Homo sapiens: one gene and its partners. The protein of the gene in region 1 interacts with the protein of each later gene in a biochemical or structural test. Each region holds a gene or a part of one and is shown in the gene's direction. Other genes may lie near its edges.

Region 1 (4,243 bases):
CAGCCACCCAGGAGGCTGAGGCAGGAGAATCACTTGAAGCCGGAAGGCGGAGGTTGCGGTGAGCAGAGATGGCGCCACTGCACTCTAGTTTGGGCAACAAGAGCGAAACTCCGTCTCAGAAAAGAAAAAAAAAAACCTGCAACATTTCAAAAGATGTTATATTAGTCATTTCAGTGAAAGTTTAATTAGGGAACGGTGTCTACCAGAATATATTTGGCATCCTTCTTTTTTCTGGTATTTGCCTGAGTGAGAAAAGTGTTAGGAATAGGAAGGCCAGATGAGTTTGCTTTCCCTCCAGAGAATACTGGCCAAGAAATTTCCTGTCCAACCTCAGGAGCATCACTGAAGCCTGTTTATGAGGAATTGTCCTACCACAACACTGTGTTATGGCATTTGGGAAGCCCTCAGAGGAGCTGCCTGCTCTAAGATTGAGGCCACATGACTCAGGCCATTATAAACCCTAATGCAGAGCCCTGAAGAGGGAGAGCATTTGGAAGGGGATAGGGAAGCACATAAAGATGATATGCTCAGCTTTACTGTCGTTGGGCAGAAAACTCTCTAGTGGGCTTGAGAGGGGGAACTGATTTTAAGGAGGGCTGAATAGTTTGGGAACCTACTTAATGCAACCATAGTCTGTATTTTTAAAATCCTCACATTTCACTACAGATTTGGGTTTTAGTGTCTTGGCATAAATAGGGCCTTAATATAAATTCTTAGTTTTCTGGAGACATGGTAGAGGTCAGATATCAAGATTTCATAGGCAAACAAAACATGCTATATATGTAAAAAATGTATATACACACACAGCCTTTTGCTAAACTGAAAGAAAGTAAAAATTCAAAGCAGTCAAGGGGTTGAAAGATGGATTGGGTATGGACTTTTCTTCATCTATGTCAATTTTTGAAATCTCTCTCCCATCTCCACCATTCCCTTTGTTAATTGTCCTTGCTTACATTTAAAGGAAGGGAATTAGATCATCAAACAGGTCACTCACACCTACCTCTAACTTCACACACCTTGGTCAATGTGAAACAAGCTTGAACTGGTTATATGCTTCCCCACCATTTTTATTTATTGTAAGCTACTTTAAAAATTTTAGACAATGTTGTAATAAAAATATACACCTTTTTCCCCCATTATCCCTGGTCTTCTGGTGAAGCAAGCAGTGTAATCAATGATTCTTATGTGTGAGGAGCAACTCCAAGTAGAGGCGTTCATGTCCCTAATGCTTTTTTATTTTTCCTCATCAGCAAATTTAAACTACAACTTTATCCTGATCCCACTGCTGCTCTTTGCCTCTTCTCCCCCCAGCCCTTCCACATTTACCAGCCTCCTCCCTACCTCCTCCCAGCCTTTCCCTTTGCCCTCCCCTTTCTTCTAGCCCCTCCTCCCAGTTGAGTCAGTGGCTTGAAACTTTTAAAAGCTCTGTGCTCCAAGTTACAAAAAAGCTTTTACGAGGTATCAGCACTTTTCTTTCATTAGGGGGAAGGCGTGAGGAAAGTACCAAACAGCAGCGGAGTTTTAAACTTTAAATAGACAGGTCTGAGTGCCTGAACTTGCCTTTTCATTTTACTTCATCCTCCAAGGAGTTCAATCACTTGGCGTGACTTCACTACTTTTAAGCAAAAGAGTAAGTTTTTAAAAAATGAGAACACGTTACCTATTAGTTTCTTTTTCTACAAGTAAAACTTTTCTAAAGTTTTAAAATGTGTTAAATGTAATTTTGAATTATGATACTGTAAATGGATTGATGGATTTGAAAGTGTTTCTATAGTTTTAAAGTTAAAATTTATTGTACCAAATATATATTTTGACTGTTAAAAAAGTTTCTATTAACATTGCAACAGGTGAAAAGGTTCAAACCTTTCCGATTAGAATAAAGGATTAGTTTACTGGATGTTTGGTTTTTCATTTTAGAGTATCATTTTATTTTGTTTTTTTTTTGTAATCAGTAATAGTCTAGGTGCTATCATTTGTTGGGTGGGGGGGGGGCGGTTAGGCGCCTGGGTTGGGGGATTTGACTGACTACATCGGAAAAATCAAAGTGCAAATTTGCTTAGCGTGCTTCCTATAGTATTCTACACTTCATAGAATAAAGTGCTTTTTTCATATGGAAATCTTGATTGATGTTCTATAGCTTTGCAAAGCCAACTTCTTTTGTGACGAAGTGCTTTGTTAAAACATCGTGGTTACTTGACTTCCACGTGGTTCCTTCCTAGAATTTTCCCCATTAAACAAAAAGGTATAAAATTCAAGAGTATTAATATTATGCTTTAAAAATCAACAGTAAATTGTTACTTTGTGTTAGCAACCGCTATGGAAAGATTTGAGACCCTCAGGAGAGACAGCTTTTACTCGACCACGTTGGCAGTTTAGGAGATGAAATCTCTTGAATGGGTGGTGGCTAGTTACAGAGCATTAGAGATCAGACGTTTAAAAAAGAGTGTATGCCAGGGTACTTTTCCAAAACCGTCTCCTAAAACGGGAGCTCCTAGAAAGAGCAGGAAAAAAACTTTCTTAAACAGCGCTTTGGGAGCTCCCCCCGCCAACACCCGCCGCCCCGCACCTTCCCTCTGCTCGAACCTGTAACAGAATTCAGAACTCTGGGGCAGTTCTTTGGAGTTGGAGCTCCTAGGGCAAAGATAACGCTAATGCGTTGTTTAAAAGGGTTCAATTTTTAAAATACTTTTATTGGTAACACCCATTCTGTTCATCAGAAATGCAGCCATGCATTTTTGTGCCCGGTAAAGATTTTCTGTTCTGTGTAAATCTACAAACTAAAATAATTAGTTTAGATTCTTGACGTGACCCTGCAGTGGAAGTATTTGCACCAGTGAATGCTGAAAAGCAAATAAAAATGAAAGCTTTGCGGAGGCCGTGGGCCGGACGGGCGCGGGGCGCCTCCTGCCATCTTAGCGTCTGCCGGGATCCTTCCCGCGCCTTCGCTGCCCGAACCAGCTCGGTCTTGGGACGTTTCCCCCAAATCCTCACAAGTCAAATCGAACTCAGGTCCGAGTTCGTCACTGCAAAGGAACCCGGGGTGCGGGGTGGGAGGGATAGGAGGAGAGATGGGCTGGGTGCCAAATGGTAGAACAAATGGTTGATTTAATTAAAGTTGTCAATCTAATTTCCCATCCCTCTCACACCAGCCCTTTTTTTTTTTCTTTTTCTTTTTTCCTCTTAAACTTGCTGAATCCCACTATCTCCGCGTTGGTAAGAAAACCTGAATACCTTGGGAATTGTGCTTAAATTGCACTTGCAACTCCCCTGGAAGTTCCTGAAACTTCCCGAGAATGAGGCGGGGCGGCTCAAGGGGAAAGGGCAGGGAGGAGAGACCCTCGGGAAGCTGATGACGCGTCCGGGGCAAGTCAGCCTGTTTCCGAGACGCGCGCCTCACGGTCGTAGCAGCGCTGCGCCCACCCTGCCCCTTTAGTGACCCAGCCAGCCTTTGCTGGGGGTTTCTGATAACGCTCATCGATAAGCTCTCCTTGCTCCCAAAAGGCGTGCTTCTCTTTCTCTCCAGGTACAAAGTAGGGGTGGGAAGGGGAGAGCTACACAATGTTGTAAAAAGAAGCGTGGCTTTATTTGGAAGACGGTTGAATTTCTTTTGCTTCCTCGACCCAGTTAGTAACGACAAGAAAGATACTGAATATCGCCCTCCGAAAATCGGGCGCATTTGAACTCGGTGAAAAGTGTCCCTGTGAGGAAGCCTAATGTTTACTTTTGTGCAAGGATAACTGGAAATTAAAGCGTCTAGTAATGCAGAGATTTCATTAAGCGAGCGCTCCCCTCCCCCCCGCGCCAGGAATGAAATAAGCCAGTTAGACAGAAAACACTTTTGGGAGAAGACTAATTACTTCTGGGTAGGCCGAATTGACTGGAAATTATACCAAGCAAAGGCAGTACATTCCATTCCGTCCTGGCGATGTTGATTCTATATTATTAGAACATTGTTCCCCCAGTGTGGGGGTGCTTTGTACTTCCCAAAGTCAGGGTAGACTGGTTACCTGGGAAAATGCAGTGTTAGTGCTTTGCTCCTACTTTCTTCACTGTTTAAACATGTTCCACATTTTTCTAATGCCTTCTGAGGGTTCTCAACCCAGCCACTGAGTTCCTCACCCTTGGCGACTGTGATACCAACAATGCTGTCACCCTCCTTGGGAAACATGGTTGCAAAGATGCTCCGCAGGAGGCAGATAAAAGGCTGTGCTTTCAGATACTGAAGGTTGCTTTGTTACTTAGA
Region 2 (3,500 bases), on another chromosome or scaffold:
CATCAGCACTTGCTGCTTCACCTTGCACTTTTATGTTGTAAAGATGACTTCTTTCCTTTCACCTCATGAACCAACCTTTGCTGGCTTCCAGCTTTCTTCTGTGGCTTCCTCACCTCTCTCAGCCTATATAGAATTGAAGAGAGTTAGGGCCTTGCTCTGGATTAGACTTTGGTTTGAGGGGAATTACAGCTGGTTTGATCTTCTGTTCAGATCACTAAAACTTTCCCTATATCAACAGTAAGCGTGTCTCTCTTATTATTCGTGTGTTCACTGAAGTGGCCCTTTTAATTTCCTTCAAGAGTTTTTCCTTTGCATTCACAACTTGGCTATTTGGTGCAAGAGGGCTGCCTAGCTTTTGGCTTATCTCAGCTTTCAACATAACTTCCTCACTAAGCTTAATCATTTTCTAGCTTTGAGTGTGAGAAATGTGTAACGTTTCCTTTCACTTGAACACTGAGAGGCCATGGTAGAGTTATTAATTGGCCTAACTTTAATATTGTTGTGTCTCCAGGAATAGGGGGACCTGAGGAGAGGGAGAGAGATGGGGCAATGACCAGTTGGTAGAGGAGTCAGATAACACACAACATTTACAGATTAAGTTTGCTGTCTTATGTGGGTATGATTTGTGGCGCCCCAAAACAATTACAATGAACATCAAAGATCACTGATTACAGATCACTGTAACAAATAAAAGACTAATGAAAAAGTTTGAAATATTGTGAGAATTACCAAAATGTGACGCAGAGACATGAAGTGAATATATCCTGTGGAAAATTGCCAGTGATAGACTTGTTTGACACAGGGTTGTCACAAACTTAATTTGTGAAAAACGTGTTGTCTGCAAAGTGCAGTAAAGCAAAGTGCAATAAAATGAGCTATGCCTGTACCTGACTTCATTGAGTGGCCTTGTGTGGTTATTTTATTCCTTTTGCAAGCATTTTACCAAATTTGTATTTGAATTTTCATGTTTGCCATACCAGTAATATATGGAGAGCTTGTCTTTTTTTTTTTGAGACGGAGTTTTGCTCTGTTGCCCAGGCTGGAGTGCAGTTGCGCAATCTCGGTTCACTGCAACCTCCACCTCCTGGGTTCAGGCGATTCTCCTGGCTCAGCCTGCCGAGTAGCTGGGATTACAGGCGCCTGCCACTGTGCCTGGCTAATTTTTTCATTTTTGGAAGAGAGGGGATTTCACCATGTTGGGCAGGCTGACCTCAAACTCCTGACCTCAGGTGATTCATCTGCCTCCACCTCTGAAAGTGCTGGGATTACAGGCATGAGCCACTGCATATGGCTGCACATGTTTTTTCTGTTTTCCAAAACTTCAAGTTTTTTTTTTAATCTCTTCACAGCCATAAAACTCAAAAGAATTAAGCACTGAATCATCCTAGAGAAAGATGGGAAAACACAGTTTTCAAACTTTTGCATTTTCTGTAAGTCAAAGTAAAATAGACAATTTACTAAAGTTTTTTTTTTTAATTTAAAATTCCCCAATTAAAAAAATTAGCTGGGCTTGTTGGCATGTGCCTATAGTCCCAGTTACTTGGGAGGCTGAGACTGGAGGATTGCCTGAGCCCAGGAGTTTGAGACTGCAGTGAGCTGTGATTGTGCCACTGAACTCCAGCCTGGGTATCCCATATCTTTTTTATTTTAAAAGAAATTCCCCGTAGGGACAATTTTGACCTTGGATAAGCTATAGACTCTTGATATTGTAAAATATTAATTAATCCAGGAGGCATAAATAGAATGAATTCCAGAATGAGAAATAGAAGAATACTTTTTGTGTTTAACTACTGATTAGGAGTTTGCTATGAAGCAACTTAGTGAGGAAGACGTAGAGATAAAATGATCTGTTAATTGATTTTATTTTACATATCTATTGGGAGAGTACAAAGCATATGCTAATGACTTGATACTAGAAAATGTGTGAACTTCTGGGTTTTTGGAAATCTGCTCAAGTGTTTTTATTTATGATAGAATATTTGATTTCTCCCTTAGGCCTATTATTGTTTACTTTTGTGGGTAGAAGAATCTAGTCAGTGAGGTATGCACAAAACATTGGATTTTACTTATTTATTTTTAAAAAACTTCAACTTTTTCTTAGATTCAGTGAGTACATGTGCTGATTTGTTACATGAGTATATTGTGTGATGCTGAGGTTTTGGATATGAATGATTCTGTCACCTAGGTATTGAGCATAGTACTCAATAGGTGGTTTTTTAGCCCTTGCCCCACTAGTCCCTTGCGTAGTGTCTATTGTTCCTGTCTTTATGTCCATGTATACCCAATTCTTAGTTCCCACTTGTAAGAACATGCGGTATTTTGTTTTCTGTTTCTGTGTTAATTTGCCTGGGATAAACATTGGGTTTTTAAAATGTTGGATTAAGGCATTCTGTTCATTCATGCCTTTGTCAATAAGTAAATTTCTCACTGTTCTGTAAAATACATTTACTGAACTATACGAATACTATACTTTCTTAAATATATATTCTCCTTATATGCTTATTTCTTAATACTATGTTACCATGTCAGTGATTACAAAATATTTTTTAGTATAAGGGAGAGATTTTTTTTTTGATTGGGATAAGGGAATGTGTTCTCCAGCTACAATTCTTGCCCAGGAATTTATGGCAGTCAAGACACAAGTATTTCTATATCCTCAATGTAGGTTGCTTTGTCAGCAAAGGATCATGAGTTTTATCCAGTCTCTTCTGTCCAGTTAGTCATTCTGAATTCCAACTAATAAGCTTTCCGCATGGGTTCAATTTTTAGTAAGTTTTCAAAGCTATTTCAAGAATTATGGCCAAATCACCTTCATTATGAAACGATTCTCCTGACCTCCTTTATTTTAGGATTTAAGATCAAGAGGAATGGTATAGTATAATAAAGTAGAAAATCCTGTGAAAATGAATTATTAAATTTAAACTTTCAAAGATTATGGGTAAGATTTTTGTAACCCATTTCTTCTGGTAACACCATTTTGCTAGCCACTGAGGCCCTAATTTAGGATACAATTTTGAAGCTTCTATCAGGGGCTTATCATTTTGAAGGACTGTGACATCTTTATCATTAAAAGCATGGTAATACTTGGAATAAACCTATTAAGTTCTGTTCTATTTAAACATCTCTCATAGGTAATAAACAAGCTAAAATTCTTTTAAAAGGTAAACTGGTGTATATATGGTGTAAACTGGTGTATATATTTAAGGCAATGACTCTACTTTCATTTATTTATTCAATCATTTATCCATTCAACAAAGGTGTATTATGAGTGCCTGCTATGTGCCAGGCATAGTGCCAGATGCATGTTTGAAGTAGCAAATGATATTCAATCTCTGCCTGTATGAATCTTAAAATATATTAGGAAGACAGATGCAAAAACAGGCAATTTCAATGCTGTGTGGTGAGGTTAACGCTCTTTGTCAAGAAAACAGACAAGGAACACTCAATCCCACTAGGGAAGATGTAATATTTAAGATGAGATACAGAAGATGAATAGAAGT
Region 3 (3,500 bases), on another chromosome or scaffold:
CAGGGTGCGTGTGTAAGTTCCAACAGGCGGATGGGGAAGGCCTCCCTGAGGAGGTGACATTTCTACAAGTTCCCGAAGGAGCTGAGACGGGAGTTTTGATGATGTCTGGGGAAGAGTTTTGTGGGCAGAGGGAACAGCCGATGCAAAGGCCCTAGGGGGATGTGAGTCTGGTGGGCCTTGGGTCGAAAGGACAGATGTGTCCAGGAAGGCTTCACCTCCCTTTAGAGTGCAGTTGCCAAGGTGGGGTGGGCCCATAGGGTCAAATCTCCGCTTTGTCACTTCTGGCTGTGTAACCAGGAACAAGTCACTTAGCATCTCCATGCCTCAGTTTTCCCAGCTGTAAAATGGGGAGAATAACAGTGCCCAAGTGGCAGTGTGGTTATGAGGATTAAGTGAGAAAATGCAGTGTGCTGGAGTGGAGCTGGCCAGGGCGAGCATCAGGAGGTGAAGTCAGGGGACCGGGGACTGACAGTTGTGGTGAGGACTTCTGCTTCTACTCTCCCTGAGCTAGACACAGTCTTCTTGTGACTGCAGGCAGCCGCCATTGGGAAACTGAATGGTTCTGTGGGTGACCCTGATTTTGAGGTCACGTTCCTTGACATTGCTGGTTTTAGAGTAGGGCAGGAGAGCAGGACCCAGAACGCAGAAGGCCAACCCCCAACTTGAGACTGCGCCCCCGCTCTCCCATGGTGGGATGTTGGCCTGCGTGTGGCTCAGGCCTGCTGGACAGGAGCCCCTCTCCCTGTGTGGAGGAGGATTGTGGGGGTGGCGGCCTCTCCAGGTGATGCCATGGGTCCTGCTAGCCCTGATGCACCCAGCCTGTGAGTGCCTGAGCCCTAACTTAGGTATTCTTGGGATACTGGAGCTGTCACCTTCCCAGTGCCCTGATGCTTCTCATTTGGGGTCTGTTGCCCTCCTGTTTGGAGGGAAAGAGCAGAGCCAAGGGTTCAGGGCATGGTCTGTTGTGAGGTCAGGGAGCCCTGGGTTCCAGGTGCCTCTGCAGCTCACCAGCTCAGTGGCTTCTCTGGGCCTCAGGCTCCCTATCTGTAAACTGGGGACAATCGGTGAGCCTCCCTCCATGGTTCTTAGGACAATTAACTGACTTAGCATTCATAAAGTGCTTAGAGCAGGCCTGGCCCAGGGAAGGGCCCAACACTGGGTGCTACTTATTAAGGTTCTTTATTTTTTTCTTTGCAATCCTTGGCAACAAATGAATGAGGCTTCAAATTTTTAAATGTATTGATGCATTTCTTTTTGTCTCCCTGAAAAACGTGCTTCTGCCGAGCTTATCTGATCTTTCTATGCTGCTCTCCCCATGGAAGCTGGGCTTCCTGGGAGGCTTGTCGCCCGTGGGGATTGGAACTGTCATTCAGAGGTCAGCCTGTAACTGGCTTTGAGGCATCTCCATCGAGCCCTTGGCCTGTTCCAGCCCTCAGTGGCCAGGGAGGAACGCCCAAAGGAGCTGGGGCTCTGCCTGGAGCCGAACAGCCCCGGGGCTGCAGGCATTACAGCAACTTCCAGGCTTGCATGGATGGGGGAGTAGGCAGGAAGGTACCCAGAGGGTAGGGCCAGACCCCTTAGGGAGCCAGAAGGCCTGGGCTTCAATCCTGGCTCTGCCACTTAGAAGCTCTGTGCCCCTGGGCAGTTCCCTTGACCTCTCTGTGCCTCATTAGGCCTGGGTTCAAACCCTGGCCCTGCCCTTTATCATGGGATATCACTTAACCTCTCTGTGCCTCAGTTTCCTCATCTGTAAAATGAGAATCATGATTATACCGCCTCAAAAGTGGTGAGGATTAAATGAGATCGTGCTTAGGAAGCACAGAAACCAGCACTTAATCACTAGGAGCCATCATCATGATTGATCTAGGAAAACCTTTCAACAAGGTGAGGGAAGCAGGCAGGGAGGGAACTGCCATGTTTTATGGTTTCTGTGCACACTTCCCCACAGTTCCTCCCAGCAACCCATGAGGTGGGCACCAGTACCCCCATTTTGCAGAGGAGAAGTCTGAGGCTCAGAGAGAAGTGACTTGTCCCAGATCCCTTAGCCAGTTGGCAGCCGATTTAGAATCAAAGTCCCAAGTTGGACTGACTCCAAAGCCTATCCCTCCCTTCCCACCATATCAACAATCCCTTCCATGGTGGGGCGAAGCTGGCTGGGGCTGGACCGTCACTTGGTGGAGTACTTAGCGCCCATGTCCTCTTCAGCACCCAGGGTCCCGGTGAGCTGGCATGGTCCTGGCCGACAGCTCACCGTCCCTGCAAATCATGTCCTGTTCGCCCCAAGTGGAGCCTCTGGGCATTTGTTTTCTCAGTGGTCCCTTTTGAGATGCTGAGTCCTCCCTCCAGGAGGCTCACAGAACAGGGCAGCAGTCAAAGCCGGCTGACTTTATAGTCCCACCCACTCCCCCACGCTTCTTTCCAGCCACCCGCTTAGGCAGGACCCTGGCGAAGGCAGCCTGGCAAGGAGTTGACTTCCTTTTCCCTTTGTCAAAGCTCAATAGCCCCCTGAGGCCCCAGAGAGCGGGAGATAATGAAGGCAAATTAGCCATGATTTCAAGAGAAATAAAATAAAAAAGAAGGCCACCCACCCCGGCTGCAGCGTGGGCCTGAGTACCAGGTGCACAGGTCTGAGCTCCAAGCACGTTTCTCCCTCTGTCCCTCCTCCCCTGACTTGCACACCCCACATTCGCCGGGACTGGCTGGCACCACTGCGGAAATGAATTTTCCTCTGAAGCGAGTTCCTACAGGACGATTGACTGAAGGCAAAAGCTCATAATTGCCCGTTGCTGGAAGGAGGAGACAGGGAAAAAAAAAAACATGGATAAAAATATCTCTGTTTTTTATGCACGTTTCCAGCTGAAAATTGGTGGGAAAGATGTTTTTGAAAAGCCTTCATCTCTAAGCATATAATTACCAGGTCCTGGAACAAAAAAGAGAGAGTGGGAGAGAGCAAGCATGTTCTCTGAGGAGGGGGCCTAGGGTCTGACCCCCCCAAGGGGTTTTCTATAAATAAAGTAATCCCCTCAACTTCTCAAGCTCTGGCCAGCTGGAGTCAGCCATGGGAGAGACACCCCCATTTTACAGAGGGGAAAATGGAGGCTCGAGTCACACAGCCAATTGTAATTCTAACCCTATTTTGATTCTTGGTTTGGATGCTGCCTCAGTTCCCCCCCATCTGAGGATGTTCGTGAAAGAGAGGCCCTATGTCCCCTCTGAATAGGCATCAGCAAACACTGCAGCATTCCTTCCGGGCACCTTTCTGACTATGCCAGGGGGTCTTGGGTGCTCAGAAGCCTCTCATCTGGCAACTCGCCTATCAAGAATGGCTTCTTGACTTCCACAAGAGGCCACCAAGGGCACACCCTGAGATGCCTAGGGAAGTCTCTCGAGGCCTCGCCTGCTGCCCACTGACTCTTTGCGCACAGTAGTATGACTTGTTTTGCAGCACGCAGTCAAGTCTCTGACAGCTGGGAAAAGAGATGGCTCACAGGCTGAACCCC
Region 4 (3,500 bases), on another chromosome or scaffold:
ATAATGCAGTGTGGGCATGTTTTAGCGCTTTCTGGTTCAAGGGGCCAAGGCCACCCAAGATTCCATCTTTGCATTTAGCTGACCTCAGAAATTCTATTCAAATCAACAAATACCCACTGAGTAAAGGCTGTGTCAAGTTCAGTGCCAGGACCTATAACTGTGATTTTAGATCAGAAGCCAAAGGCCGAGTTAGCTCTAAAATCGGAAGTTTGTTTCACATTATTGGGAGAAAAGTCTTTACCATTGGATTTCGAGTTTTTCTTTGCAATGGAGTGTTCTGTGAAAGGGTGGTGTATGCAAAGCAGTCCCTCAAAGGCCAAAGGAGCTGAGAAACCAAAGGACAAGGCAGGCAAATCCAGTTTGTTGGTACATTGGAATTTATCAGGGGAACTTACGAACAGAAGCATGGTCTTGGACAGCCACAAAACATGTAGATCTCTGTGTTACTCCCCAGACCCAAGGCTGATATACCATAGGGAAAGGGTATATGTGCTCCAGCAAGACAATCGAAGGCAGCCCTCCGCAATAGCCAAGAATGCTATAGTGCATCATAGCCTATAATTTGCGTGATAACATTAAGGTTGACATGTTCTTAGACTAGGGACAGTAAATGAAGTAGAAATCGGGAGGCAATCACAGGACTGGGGCTAATCAGAAGTCAACATCACAGATTACCATCCAAGAGGGAGTCACTTGTGTCTCCACATGGAGTTTACCCCTACTCTCTTCCAGGTAAAAAGGGGGTGTACATGACTGATATTACACCTCAAGGTGTGGCTATGAGAGCTGGAGTTCTGGCTGATGATCACTTGATTGAAGTGAATGGAGAGAATGTAGAGGATGCCAGCCATGAGGAAGTGGTTGAAAAGGTATGCCCCAAAGGGTACTTTTCTTACCCTATCTTCCACTCTATTCTCATTGGAGGTGACAGGAAGACAGGGGTGGTAGGGGACAGCATGAGTTTATGATGGAAAAAATATCCAGTTGAGTTGCCCCTTCATATTAAGGGTGAACAGACTCACACTAGTGGTATAAGCAGTGTTAATATAGGGTTTTGGAATAAAGCCTTCCCTAGTTTCACATGAGGTCTACAAAATTATTAACTTTACCTTTTGGATCTTGTTTGTATCTGATTGGGAGCCCCCTCTGAACTGTTTGATTGAGACAGGGTCTCACTCTGTTACCCAGGCTGGAGTGTAGTGGCACAATCTCGGCTCATTGCAGTCTCGGCCTCCTGGGCTCAGATGATTCTTCTACCTCAGCTTCCTGAGTAGCTGGGACTACAGGTGTGCACCACCGCACCTGGCTAATTTTTATGTGTGTGTGTGTGTGTGTGTGTGTGTGTGTGTGTGTGTGTGTTTTGTAGAGATAGGGTCTCACTATGTTGGCCAGGCTGGTCTTGAACTCCTGAGCTCAAGTGATCTGCCCGCCTTGGCCTCCCAAAGTGCTGGGATTATGGGCGTGTGCCACTGCGCCCTCTGAATTTACAATAAGTTCACTGTTGAGCCGTTAATACTGAAATGCTTTAATAGGAAGTGGGAGATAACCGAGATTTTCCTTTGAGGTCATATGGAACCTTAAAAATTGACCAACCTTCTCTTTGTAGAATGATTTTTTGACGTGGACCCTTACTTTCTTTTCTTTTCCAAACTCCCTTTCTAGCTTTTATCTAGGTACCTTTATGGGTTTTCTGAATTCCAGCTCCTACTTGGGCTCAGTTAGCACCTATGTGGGTAGGTCATACTTAAATAAGGGAAAACAACTATAGAAGTGGAGATAGGGGCCGGGCGCGGTGGCTCACGCCTGTAATCCCAGCACTTTGGGAGGCCGAGGCGGGTGGATCACGAGGTCAGGAGATCGAGACCATCCTGGCTAACAAGGTGAAACACCGTCTCCACTAAAAATAAAAAAAAAAAAATTTAGCCAGGTGCGGTGGCGGGCACCTGTAGTCCCAGGTACTCGGGAGGCTGAGGCAGGAGAATGGCGTGAACCCGGGAGGCAGAGCTTGCAGTGAGCTGAGATAGTGCCACTGCACTCCAGCCTGGGCGAAAGAGTGACACTCCATCTCAAAAAAAAAAAAAAAGGCGATAAATACATATCAGTTAGCTGGTAGGGCATAGTGTAACAGCTTAAACTCAGGCCTTTCATCCCCTATCTTTTGTTGAACCTAGAGACTGTGTGCCTTTATACAGAAACTTTCTTATTCCCCAGCATTGTTCTTGGGGGTTGATGTCATTCCTCATCTGTGTGTGTTGTTACAGGTGAAGAAGTCAGGAAGCCGTGTCATGTTCCTGCTGGTGGACAAAGAAACTGACAAGCGTCATGTTGAGCAGAAGATACAATTCAAAAGAGAAACAGCCAGTTTGAAACTGTTACCCCACCAGCCCCGAATTGTGGAGATGAAGAAAGGAAGCAATGGCTATGGTTTCTATCTGAGGGCAGGCTCAGAACAGAAAGGTAAGGTACAAGAGCAGGAAACTTGGCAGTAACCAGCAAATTCCTCATCCCATTCTGACTCCAGAGTTCCATTAGGTTCCCAACTCCCAGCCAGATGCATGAGCGGCATAGCATAGAAGGCACAGCTGGGTCAGCGTCTATGTCACATGAGGGTCTGATGTTGGGCATCAAAAGTTTCCATAGCATTATGATAAGGCAGAATTTGGGATCTGGGCAACGGTATCCTGGTAAGTTAGCTCTCTGGGGCGGGGGTGGGGGGAAATCCAAATTGGTAGCGTTTGTTTTTGGTACCAAATTGGTAGTATTTTGTGATGTAAATACTCCTCCCATGTCCAGTTTCAACTTACTAACACGATGTCACTGAACACAATGAAGTGTTGCACAGAATTGGCTTTTGTGAGCCGGTGTGAGCCAGTATAGCACACCGCTGGACCTGAGGCCGAGGTGTGGGTGAGGATTTGGGACTCAGAACCAGGAGTCCTCCTTCCTTGCAACTCAATAGGAAGAACACTAGGTTCTTTCAGGGAAGGTAAATACATAAAAGAACATGAGTTCGGGCCGTATAAACTGCTATTCGCCCATAAGTTGTTATTTTCTTTTCACTCTCTGTTTACATTAATTTATCAAATATTAATTTGGTTTGTGTTTTGTAAAAACATCCTCAGTGCCTTGGAGAAAGAATATCATATGAAGCAGACAGGAATTCTTTAGTGAAGGAGTCTACCATTTAGTAGATAAGAGATATGTCCATAATGAAGGGAGATAGAGGTTAAGTACCTTCATACAGGGGCAGATCAAGCACTGTGATAATTCAACGTTAGAGTAAGCTTTTCTCACTAAAAAGGTACCAGAAGCCCTCATAGTAGGGGTGGCACTTGAGTTCAGGCTTTGTAACATGAATAGATTTGGGAAAGTAGACAGAGCTGGGATAAGGAAGATCATTCCAGGAAGGTGGGAATCATGTGAACACAGTCAGGAGACACTGGCACAGTTTAATTGGCACATGATGTGTAGTACAAGAATTCGTTGGAAAGGTAGGTTGG
Region 5 (3,500 bases), on another chromosome or scaffold:
GACATTGCCACCATCAAGATCCATCCCAAGGTGGGTGGGCGTGGGTGGAGGGGCGGAAGCACCTGGGGCTGGGCATGGTGGCCTCTTCCCAGACGCCGGAACCCAGAGGCAAGCTAGCCCCACCTTCCATCAGCCAGGGGGAGGAAACTGGGCCCAGGGAGGACTGGCAGCTGGCCCAGGGTCACGGCTTGGAAAAGACCTAGAACCCAGGTCTTTGGACTCCTTGTCCTGCGCTCCCTGAGCCGCTAGGTGCAGGGCAGAGCCAGGAAGCATGTGGCCCACAGTGGGTGGGCTGTGGTCCCATATCACACCCCACGGAGGCTCTTCACTGTCTTACCTGGGCCCACTACTGGGGATGCACCTGCCCCATGGGATGGCATCTGGGTTTGGGCGTGGAGGCCAGGGGGCTGCCGTGGGGAACACTTGGGACAGGGACCCCATCCCTCCACCTTCACGTCTGTACCTCCCACCAGCTGACCCAGAAGAGGCCTGCACTGAGGCCCCCAGAATCCTCTTCTTCCTCCACCGGCTGTTTCTGGAAGGCCTGCTCTCAGCCAGGCGCTGACTGCACTCCTCTAATTCTCACCACAGGCCTGGGAGGAAAGGGCCTGTATGAGTCTGTTTTCACACTGCTATAAAGAACTACCTGAGACTGGGTCATTTATGAAGAAAAGAGGGTTCGTTGACTCAGAGTTCTGTAGGCTGTACAGGAAGCATGACCAGGAGGCCTCAGGAGACATACAATCATGACGGAAGGCAAAGGGGAAGCAGGGACATCTTCTCATGGCAGAGCCGGAGAGAGAGAGAGTGAAGTGGGACATGCCACACATTTTAAAACCATCAGATCTCGTGAGAACTCACCACCATGAGAACAGCATGGGGGAAGTCTGCCCCCATGATCCCATCACCTCCCACCAGGCCCGTCCCCCAACACATGGGGATTACAATTTGACATGAGATTTGGGTGGCGACACAGAGCCAAACCATATCAGGGACCTCATTATCTTGGGATTTCAGACGGGGCAACTGAGGCTTGGAAGTTAGGTAACTCGTCCAAGATCACAGCGCACTGGAGCAGGGCTGGCCCGCTCAGCTAGGACCCCGGCCTCCCTCCAGCTTGTTCTTGTCTTGCCCAATGCCATGCTTATGTGACCCTGGGGACCACAGTTGAGTTACTTGCAGCTCCCCATGCCATGAGGTCACTGAGTCCCATGTCTCACACCAGCGTTGGACCCGGAGCTTCCCTTGGACTGGGAAGTTCACCTTGGCTGGTTTGAATTTGGCTTCCTCTCTTTCTGAATGAACGTTTACAGCATTTGTGATGAAATCTTTTGCAAGGGGGTTTCCTCTTGCCCCATCAAGGGAGAGGAGATTTAATGGTTCCAAGGAGTTCCCCTAATGGGGACCCTTCCCTGCTTTTCAGACTTTTCACGGTCGCGATTGAGTCTGGGGGCATCACCTCCATTTTAAAGTTAAGGAAACCCACTGAGGGGTGTGCTCACGGACAGGAGTTGGCAAATTTTCTTTTCTTTTTTTTGAAATGGGGTTTTGCCCTTGTTGCCCAGGCTGGAGTGCAATGGCGTCATCTCGGCTCACCACAACCTCCGCCTCCCGGGTTCAAGCAATTCTCCTGCCTCAGCCCCCCGAGTAGCTAGGATCACAGGCATGTGCCACCACACTGGCCAATTTTTTTGTATTTTTAGTAGAGACGGGGTTTCTCCATGTTGGTCAGGCTGGTCTTGAACTCCCAACCACAGGTGATCCACCTGCCTTGGCCTCCCAAAGTACCGGGATTACAGGCGTGAACCACCGTGCCTAGCCTTTTTTTTTTTTTTTTGAGACGGGTTCTTGCTCTGTCACCCAGGCTGGAGTGCAGTAGCAGGATCTCGGCTCACTGCAACCTCCACCTCCCAGGTTCAAGTAATTCCCCTGTCTCAGTCTCCCAAGTAGCTGTGACTATAGGTGCATGCCACCACCCTCAGCTAATTTTTGTATTTTTAGTAGAGATGGGTTTCACCATGTTGGCCAGGCTGGTCTTGAACTCCTGACCTCAGGTGATCCCCTGCCTTGGCCTCCCAAAGTGCTAGGATTACAGGAATGAGCCACTGCACCCCACCCCCAAATTTTCCTTCCTTCCTTCCGTCCGTCCTTCCTTCCTTCCTTCCTTCCTTCCTTCCTTCCTCCCTTCCTCCCCCTCTCTCTCTCTTTTTTTTTTTTTCAGGGTCTCGCTCTGTTGCCCAGGCTGGAGTGCAGTGGCACAATCACAGCTCACTGCAGCGTCAAACTCCTGGGCTTAAGGGATCTTCCCACCTTGGCCTTCCATATAGCTAGGACTACAGGCATGCACCACCATACCTGGCTAATTTTTAAATTTTTGGTAGAGATAGGGTCTCGCTGTATTGCCCAGGCTGGTCTAGAACTCGTGGGCTCAAGCAATCCTCCTGCCTCGGCCTCCCAAAGTGTTGGGATTACAGGTGTGAGCCATGGTGCCCAGCCAACAAATTTTCCATGAAGCCAAATGGTAAATATTTTATCTTTGCAAGCCCTGTGGTCTCTGTCACAACCACGCATCTCTGCTGTGGCAAAAATGCAGCCTTAGGCTGCACAGGTGGGTGTGGCTGCGTTCCAGTGAAGCTTGATTCACAAAACAGGCAATGGACAGCGTTTGGGCCTTGGGCCAGTTTGCAACCCCCGCTCGAGGACCCCTGTGGGAAGAGGAGAGCGAGACTAGGGGCAGGTCTGTCTCCCCTTCCGGCGGCTGTGGCAGAATGCTGGCAGGACTGGTGGGGTGGTATCCAGGTGGGCCTGAGCAGGACGCCCCACCAGCCACCTGTGGCAAATGGGTGCCAGCAGAGCTAGTGTGATTCATGTCCTGCAGGCCCTGGTCAGCACCCATGGCCATGAGCTGAGGTGGGAAACGCCCTCCTAGCCCCTAGGCATTAAATCGAGCCATGGGAAAGGCTCCTGACCCTCACCTGTGCCCCCTCCTTGGGTGCAGGGAGGATGGCTGACCCTCCCCAGCTCACGGCCTCACCTGTGCACCCTCCTTGGGTGCAGGGAGGATGACTGACCCTCCCCAGCTCATGGCCTCACCTGTGCGCCCTCCTTGGGTGCAGGGAGGATGGGCTGACCCTCCCCAGCTCATGGCCTCACCTGTGCGCCCTCCTTGGGTGCAGGGAGGATGGGCTGACCCTCCCCAGTTCACGGCCTCACCTGTGCACCCTCCTTGGGTGCAGGGAGGACGGGCTGACCCTCCTCAGTTCACGGCCTCCCAGAGATTTCAGACGTTATTTCTGCCTCTTCGGCCGGTCAGCAATGGAAAATGTCATCTCTCCGGGCCCTCACCTTCCAATGTGCAGGCCTGGTTCCGCCACCTGGCATTCTCTCTGCCATTGACTGAAGCTTCTTGAGCACAGAGAATAGAGGAGCGGCCTGAGTCTTTCCCACACCAGCGCCCGCCCACCAAGGGCTCCCGTAATCCTGTGCGGGGCTCCACGTCG
Region 6 (3,500 bases), on another chromosome or scaffold:
TGTGCTATTTGACAATCCATGGTAGGAAAAATGGAAGAGCATTTTGTTACCCTGAGTAATATAGCACAACAGTGGCAGTAGTAGACAGCAACTAGCCTTAGAACCAGAAAACTGGGAATCTCCTGGTGTTTCTGAGGGTTCTGTGGGAGCTCCTTGTATACTATGCCAAGCAGGTGTCAGAGCTGTCCTCCCTGAGCTGAATTTGCTGTTATAGTCCTCATGCCCAGAATAGAGCCTAGTACAAGATAGGTGTTCGATAATTTTTTGTTGAACGAATGAATAGTCAGCTGTGTGTAGAGTGAATGATGTATCCTTGTCCAGATCATCTTCAAATATACATGCAGATTCCTAAGTGGTGACCTCATGGTGGCAGAGGCTGTGGGAGAGGAGGAAGGCTTGAGCAAGCCCCAGATGTACACAGGGATATCACCGCCCACGGTATGTCTGTGATGGAAGCAGGTGGTGTGACATTGATGTCTGAAGTTCCCAAGGTTGCCCATCAGGTACTGGTGGTGTGGAGCTGGCTGCCAGGAGCCATGTGGAGCACCCACGCTGTCTAAGAGTAGAAAGTCATTCCCTTTCTACACATAGAATTTGAATGTCAACTTGATGTCCTCAAAAGAATACTGAGGAACTTTTCTTTAAAAAAAAAAAAAAAAAAAAAAAAAAAAGCCCTGAACTGGAGATCTGTTCCTAACTGCAAAATCTTGACCTTGGCAGAGCCTTTTAGCTTCCTGGTGCTTGTTTTTTTTTTTTCCCCCAGTTCAACAGTCAAAACAGAAGAGGTTGAGCATTGACGGGAGACTTGCTCATTCCTGTGGGGTTTTGAGCACTTCCCAGGTGGCATTTGGTCCAAGGAGGTTGGGTGATTGGGTTGGACTCGATTTTGGGGGCCCTTCCAGCTCTACATCAGGATTGCTGTTAATCTGATTTAATGTTAGTGTTGAGTGGTTTTTGATACTCTGGTTTTCCATTTCCTGAAAAAGTAAGCAGAGTAGGATAAATATTTTGTTTCAGTTTTTTTTTTGTTTGTTTGTTTTGAGATGGAGCCTTGCTCTGTCGCCCAGGCTGGAGTGCAGTGGTGCAATCTCAGCTTACTGCACCCTCTGCCTCCCAGGTTCAAGTGATTCTCTTGTCTCAGCCTTCCGAGTGGCTGGGATTACAGGTGTGTGCCATCACCCCCGGCTAATTTTTATATTTTTAGTAGAGACGGGATTTTGCCATCTTGGCCAGGCTGGTCTCGAATTCCTGACCTCAGGTGATCCGCCTACCTCAGCCTCCCAGAGTGCTGTGATTATAGGCATGAGCCACCACTCTCGGCCGTTGTCTCATTTTTTTTTGTCCCACCTCATTCCAACCACCTGTATGTTCTGCCCCATGCGAGGGGGCTCTATAGTCGTTTCCTGAAACCCTGGGAAGATGTGAGCCACAGAGGTAGCAAACATAGAGAAAGAGGGCTGAGCTGCGTGTTGGCCTGGACAGTAGGGATGCTATGTGTGTTCAGCAGGGAAGAATCTTAAATGGGATTGCGCTGGGGGGAAATTGGATTTTTTTTTCGCCTTTTACCTGGGATAGACTGCATTCCTCTGAACGGTGTATCTCTATTGATCTTTTTGAGACTGCGTTCCACAAAAGTGCTACAGAAACATTTTAAACCAAATAGAGATGTTTGGAGCGTCCCATGTTGGCAGTCTATCCCTCTAAACCCTTGGTAGATAATTCCTGTTGACCTTGACGTTCATTTCACACTAAGGCTCATAACCCATTTGCTTTGAGGATTTAAACAAAATTGTGATAATAATTTACATAACATGAAATTTACCATTTGAACCTTTTTTTTTTTTGATACAGAGTCTCACTCTGTCACCTAGGCTGGAGTGCAATGGTGCGATCTCGGCTCATGCAACCTTCGCCTCCCCAGTTGCAGCAATTCTCCTCCTTCAGCCTCCCAAGTAGCTGGGACTACAGGCATGTGCCACCACACCTGGCTAATTTTTTTGTATTTTTAGTAGAGACAAGGTTTCCCCATGTTGGCCAGGCTGGTCTTGAACTCCTGACCTCAAATGGTCCGCCCACCTTGGCCTCTCAAAGTGCTGGGATTACAGGCGTGAGCCACCGCACCCGGCCTTGAACCATTTTTTATTGTGGAAAAATATATATAACATTTACTATTTTAATAACTTTTTAAGTGTACAAATTCAGTAGCATTAAGTTTTTTGTTTTTTGTTTTTTTTTTTGAGACAGAGTTTTGCTCTTGTTGCCCAGGCTGGAGTACAATGGCATGATCTCGGCTCACCACAACCTCCGCCTCCTGGGTTCTCCTGCCTCAGTCTCCCGGGTAGCTGAGATTACAGGTGCCCACCACCACGCCTGGCTAATTTTTGTATTTTTAGTAGAGACGGGGTTTCACCACGTTGGCCAGGCTGGTCTCGAACTCCGTACCTCAGGTGATCCACCCGCCTCGGCCTCCCAAAGTGCTGGGATTACAGGCGTGAGCCACTGCGCCCAGCCAGCATTAAGTATTTGTACACTGCTGTGCAAACATCAGCACCATCCATCTCTAGAAATTTTTCATCTTGCAAAATCGAAACTCTGTACCTATTGAATAATAACTACATGGCCCCCTAGACCTTGACAGTCACCATTATATGAATATTTCCTGTCTGTCTCTTTTTTTCTTTCTTTCTTTCTTGCTGTCTTTCTCTCTCTCTCTTTCTTCTTTTTTTTTTTTTGGAGATGGAGTCTCACTCTGTTGCTCAGGCTGGAATGCATGGAGTGCGGTGGTACTCATGGCTCACTGCAGCTTCAACCTCCCATGCTCAATTGATCCTCCCACCTCAGCCTCCCGAGTAGCAGGGACTATAGGCACATGCCACCACACCCAGCTCCTTTTTTTGTTTGTTTGTTTTTTTTTGAGATGGAGTCTCGTTCTCTTGCCCAGGCTGCAGTGCAGTGGCGCGATCTCGGCTCACTGCAAGCTCTGCCTCCCGGGTTCACGCCATTCTCCCACCTCAGCCTCCTGAGTAGCTGGGACTACAGGCGCCCGCCACCATGCCCGACTGATTTTTTGTTTTTGTATTTTTTTAAGAGACGGGGCTTTGCCATGTTGCCCAGGCTGGTCTTGAACTCCTGGATTCAAGCGATCTGGCCGCCTTGGCCTCTCAAGTTGTCCGTTTCTAGGAATTTGACTACTTTAGGTATCTTTTATAAGTGAAGTCAATACAGATTTGTCTTTTTGTGACTGGCTTACTTCTCTAAGCATAAAGTCCTCAAGGTTCATCCATATTTTAGTATATGTCAAAATTCCTTTTTTAGGCCGAATAATATTCATATATATATATATATATATATTCTATATTTTATTTGTTTCTTTACCTGTTGATGGACACATTTGGGTTGTTTTCACCTTTTAGCCATTGTGAATAATGCTGCTATGACACCATGGGTGTACAAATATCTCTTCGAGTCCCTGCTTTCTCTTCTTTTGGGTTTATACCCAG
Region 7 (3,500 bases), on another chromosome or scaffold:
TTTCTTCTGTCCTTCCCCTCCATCTTCATGTTCTTTCACAGTCGATCAAAACGAAACGTAAAAAGAGTTTCCGCCTCTCTCGAAAGTTTCCATTTTACAAGAGCAAAGAAAACATGGCCCAGGAGAGCAGCATACAGGAACGTAAGTAGCAGCAGAGTCCAGAGAGCAGGCCATCTGCAGCCCCATCCTCTCATCCTCAGTTGCCCTTCCCTCGAGAGAAGCCTGGGCAGGGCCACGTGTGGCCTCGTGCCTGCCTGTGTGCGTGTGCACCTGCTTATCTACAGAGTCAGGGCAGAAACTGGTCTGCCTAAGGAGATGTTGGGTTTTATTTGTCCTGCTCCTCAGTTAGAATGAATGTTGGAGGCACTGAGGTGGGACTGGTCCCAGGGTCAGCCTCCAGGAAGTGCCTGGCACTAGCAGTGGAAGTGCCAGACAGAGCTCTGCTGTGGTGGTGAGGAACGGTTTTTTAGCTAGACTGTCAGGGTCAGGAAAATGGTTTTTCAAGAGAACAAGGTCTAGGGACTCAGTGTTGCTCTCCTGGTTTCTTCCTCTTGTGTTTTCTTTCCCTTAACTTCACTCATGTATGTCAAGAGAAGAGCCTTTTCTTCCCAGGATCCCTGGAGTTGGGGCTACTTCTGGAATCCCATGCACGTGCATAAGCATACAGGATATCCACACAACTCTCAGCAGACTCGCTGTCATCCTAGAGTGCCTACAGAGCCAGTTTTCCCAGGAGAATCCTTCCTGCTTAAATGAGTTGACATGGAAGGAGTGTTGCTCCACATTGTTCAAATAAAGATCTATTGAGAAACACAAAGTTGGTTCGGTAGGAAGAGCAGTCACACTGAGCTAAATTCAACGGAAGAAGAAATTTAATCCTGATAAATCTTCTTGCTCTACCGTGTGCCTCAGCAATTAACTGCTCCAACCTTAACCTTAAACACCAGGTCTGGCTTGAAAAATGTCTTCTCACTTGTCTCATCATGAACAGTAAACATCTCTCATTTACCAGTGACTCCTCTGTCTTACATGGAGGGATCTTGGGGTCTTGGTCTATTGGGGCTGGCAGGAGACTGACTGGTTCTGATAGGAAATGTCCTTCTGTCAGGCCAGCTTGGTCCACAGTCATGGTATGTGTAAGTCATTGCTATCTGGGGTGGTACCTGGTGGACAGAAGGGTGCCCTCATCTAGATGGCAGCCACGGCTCATCATCCTGGAGTAGTTCAATGAGAAGCCATAGACGGGGTGGCTCTGCTCATGAGCAGTTAGGAGACAGTCTGAGTCAGAGGCCTGAGGTGATGTCACCATAGTTTCATCAGATGAGTCCCAGAGTCCCTCCATGCCAAGCCCAGCCTGGGGAGGTGTTCATTGCTCAGTGGTCCCGCCTGGTGGGCGAGGGGGTATCTACTGGATGACAGAGTTGAAGGTGCCTAGTGCTTCTCCAGAAGCTGAGCTCATCCCCCAAGATCTGTCCAGCTCAGGGCAGCTTTGGAGGCCACACTCTACACCATGCGAAACTTTTCCTGAAGGGTTTGAACAGAGTGAATCAGTATTGGGCAAAGGCTTCTTGAGGTGATGGCAATTCTATCTGCCTACCTGGCACACGCGGACATTTGCTCTTTCACGCACTGCAGAGGGAAATGGTGATTTCAGGGGCAAACAGAGACCTGGGCTCCACAACCAAAATTTAGTCAAAGCAGGTGCTCTAAGCCTTGGAGTGTCACCTGTCCTGTCCCATTGGCCTACAGCTGTAGACACCTCAGAAAGCTAGTCTACTCCAAGGCCCTCTGGCAATGAATTGGGCAGCATGAAGTCTTGATGTCTTATCTGCCCTGGGATGTTCTTTCTGTGGCAAAGTTCCTGGCCTCACTATAGTGCTAGGTCTTCATGGTGTTTCATAATTCTGTCACTAGTGCTCACCTACCTCTGTATTCTTCCTCCCCCCTTGTCTTTTTCTCTATTTTTTCTCTTCTCCCCAAATCTCTCCCTCTCTTCCATTCCCTCCCATCCCTTCCCCTTCCCCCCTCTTCTCCCCGTCGTCCTCTCTCCGCCCTTGCTGTCTGTGAAATCAGGACTTCCCGGGGTTAAGTGACGATTATTATGGAGCAAAGAACCTGAGTAAGTCCAACTTACACACCGTTCACTGTACTTGTGGCATGAATGGAGATAGTGGGGGTGGGGCTATTGGGGACATGGGTGAGGGTGAAGGGTGAGGGGAGGGCAGTGTTTGTGAGCACTCTGACATCACAGCAGGAAGAAGTGCATGTGGCTCCATATGTTACATGTTTGCTATGGATCCCTAGTACCCAAATAAGTCCATATCATTCATGCCTTTGTTTACCTTTTGCTACTCAAAGTGGGAGGGCGTGAGCATGGCATCCCACCTTAGAAGTGAAGTAAGCTTGAAATGTTTCTCCAAGGTAACCACTCAGCTAATCTCTAGCCTATTGTCGAAGGGAGGGGTGCCTGCTGGTTGGATTCTTCTCCCAGTGATACCACGCTAAAGAATTGGGTGTAGGAATTGCAGCTGTTAACAGTCCTCTAACTAGGGGCAAGGGTACTGTGACCCCTTTTTCCCAACCTGCATCTGAGATGTCCCAGCAGATCCCGGGCCTCAGCAAACAGCCACTGTTTGGCTTCCCACAGAGCACCTGTAAGGGGTTGAGCTGGTCTGCTAGGGGCCTCAGCATCATTTATGGACCATATATAGTTAGTGCTTTATCTCAGGAAAACTCCAACCTCATTTTCCTTTCTGGAAAAGAATCCTGGAGTGGAAAATGAAAAAGACCTAGATGATGAGGCCTTAGTGGCCATCCTGCTGCGTGCAAGGGTGCACAGACACCAAATGGGTTCTATCAGCATATACTCTCCTTCAATAAATAATACAGACCAAAGGCAAAGGAGTTGCCCATGGGGATTGTTCAGGAACTAGCCATGTGTGGCAACTCAGCCAGTCCTTTCTGGGTGGGGGGGCCACAGCATATCATGGTCTGGAACAGTGTGGTCTTGGCTGAAATGAGCAGCATCTCTCTCCATAGTTTGGTGTGTCCATGTCTCATCTTCATTCGCGTGTCATCTTGGATGGGCGGGCTTTGTTTGTGCCTCCTACGAGCGCTGCTCCTCCGCCTGAGCTTTCTTTTCCCTCACCACTAAGAGATGGGCAGATCCCAGCTGTGTGAGACAGGAGGGCTGCCTTGTCCTCAAGGTGTTTTTGTTGGTTTTGTTGTCTGTGTTTTGACATATGTGTCTGGTGGTGGATGGAGATGCTTCCCCTCTCACCACTGAAGCCAGGCTCTCCTGCTTTGGAGTGGTGGCAGGAAGGCTGGGGAGCCCACCGAATGGTCAGAGCAGCGCTCCCTGGTGTCTGCTTAACCCATCCAGCGTTTGGCCTCTTAGTTGTGGAGTGCCACATGGTTCTGTACTTCAGGGGCTCTGTTGGGCGGGGGACACCCATGAGCAGACTGGTCCCTGGACTTCTCTTTGCTCCTGTCACTGTCTT

What was found.
Region 2: the proteins of GJA1 (region 1) and DLG2 interact in a test that uses a peptide from one of them, tested with the Homo sapiens proteins (one large-scale study listed by IntAct).
Region 3: the proteins of GJA1 (region 1) and GRIP2 interact in a test that uses a peptide from one of them, tested with the Homo sapiens proteins (one large-scale study listed by IntAct).
Region 4: the proteins of GJA1 (region 1) and PDZK1 interact in a test that uses a peptide from one of them, tested with the Homo sapiens proteins (one large-scale study listed by IntAct).
Region 5: the proteins of GJA1 (region 1) and HTRA3 interact in a test that uses a peptide from one of them, tested with the Homo sapiens proteins (one large-scale study listed by IntAct).
Region 6: the proteins of GJA1 (region 1) and DLG5 interact in a test that uses a peptide from one of them, tested with the Homo sapiens proteins (one large-scale study listed by IntAct).
Region 7: the proteins of GJA1 (region 1) and DLG3 interact in a test that uses a peptide from one of them, tested with the Homo sapiens proteins (one large-scale study listed by IntAct).

Annotation. Positions count from the first base shown.
Region 1 is NC_000006.12:121,434,203-121,438,445, forward strand, and holds the start of GJA1 (gap junction alpha-1 protein), read left to right. Parts: upstream 1-1,443; 5' UTR 1,444-1,630; intron 1,631-4,243. UniProt on the Homo sapiens protein: Gap junction protein that acts as a regulator of bladder capacity. A gap junction consists of a cluster of closely packed pairs of transmembrane channels, the connexons, through which materials of low MW diffuse from one cell to a neighboring cell.
Region 2 is NC_000011.10:85,617,345-85,620,844, reverse strand, and holds part of DLG2 (disks large homolog 2), read left to right. Parts: intron 1-3,500. UniProt on the Homo sapiens protein: Required for perception of chronic pain through NMDA receptor signaling. Regulates surface expression of NMDA receptors in dorsal horn neurons of the spinal cord.
Region 3 is NC_000003.12:14,533,843-14,537,342, reverse strand, and holds part of GRIP2 (glutamate receptor-interacting protein 2), read left to right. Parts: intron 1-3,500.
Region 4 is NC_000001.11:145,679,869-145,683,368, reverse strand, and holds part of PDZK1 (Na(+)/H(+) exchange regulatory cofactor NHE-RF3), read left to right. Parts: intron 1-732; coding exon 733-869; intron 870-2,261; coding exon 2,262-2,457; intron 2,458-3,500. UniProt on the Homo sapiens protein: A scaffold protein that connects plasma membrane proteins and regulatory components, regulating their surface expression in epithelial cells apical domains.
Region 5 is NC_000004.12:8,286,754-8,290,253, forward strand, and holds part of HTRA3 (serine protease HTRA3 isoform 1 precursor), read left to right. Parts: coding exon 1-30; intron 31-3,500. UniProt on the Homo sapiens protein: Serine protease that cleaves beta-casein/CSN2 as well as several extracellular matrix (ECM) proteoglycans such as decorin/DCN, biglycan/BGN and fibronectin/FN1.
Region 6 is NC_000010.11:77,916,756-77,920,255, reverse strand, and holds part of DLG5 (disks large homolog 5), read left to right. Parts: intron 1-3,500. UniProt on the Homo sapiens protein: Acts as a regulator of the Hippo signaling pathway.
Region 7 is NC_000023.11:70,493,335-70,496,834, forward strand, and holds part of DLG3 (disks large homolog 3), read left to right. Parts: intron 1-41; coding exon of another isoform or gene 42-141; intron 142-2,073; coding exon 2,074-2,119; intron 2,120-3,500. UniProt on the Homo sapiens protein: Required for learning most likely through its role in synaptic plasticity following NMDA receptor signaling.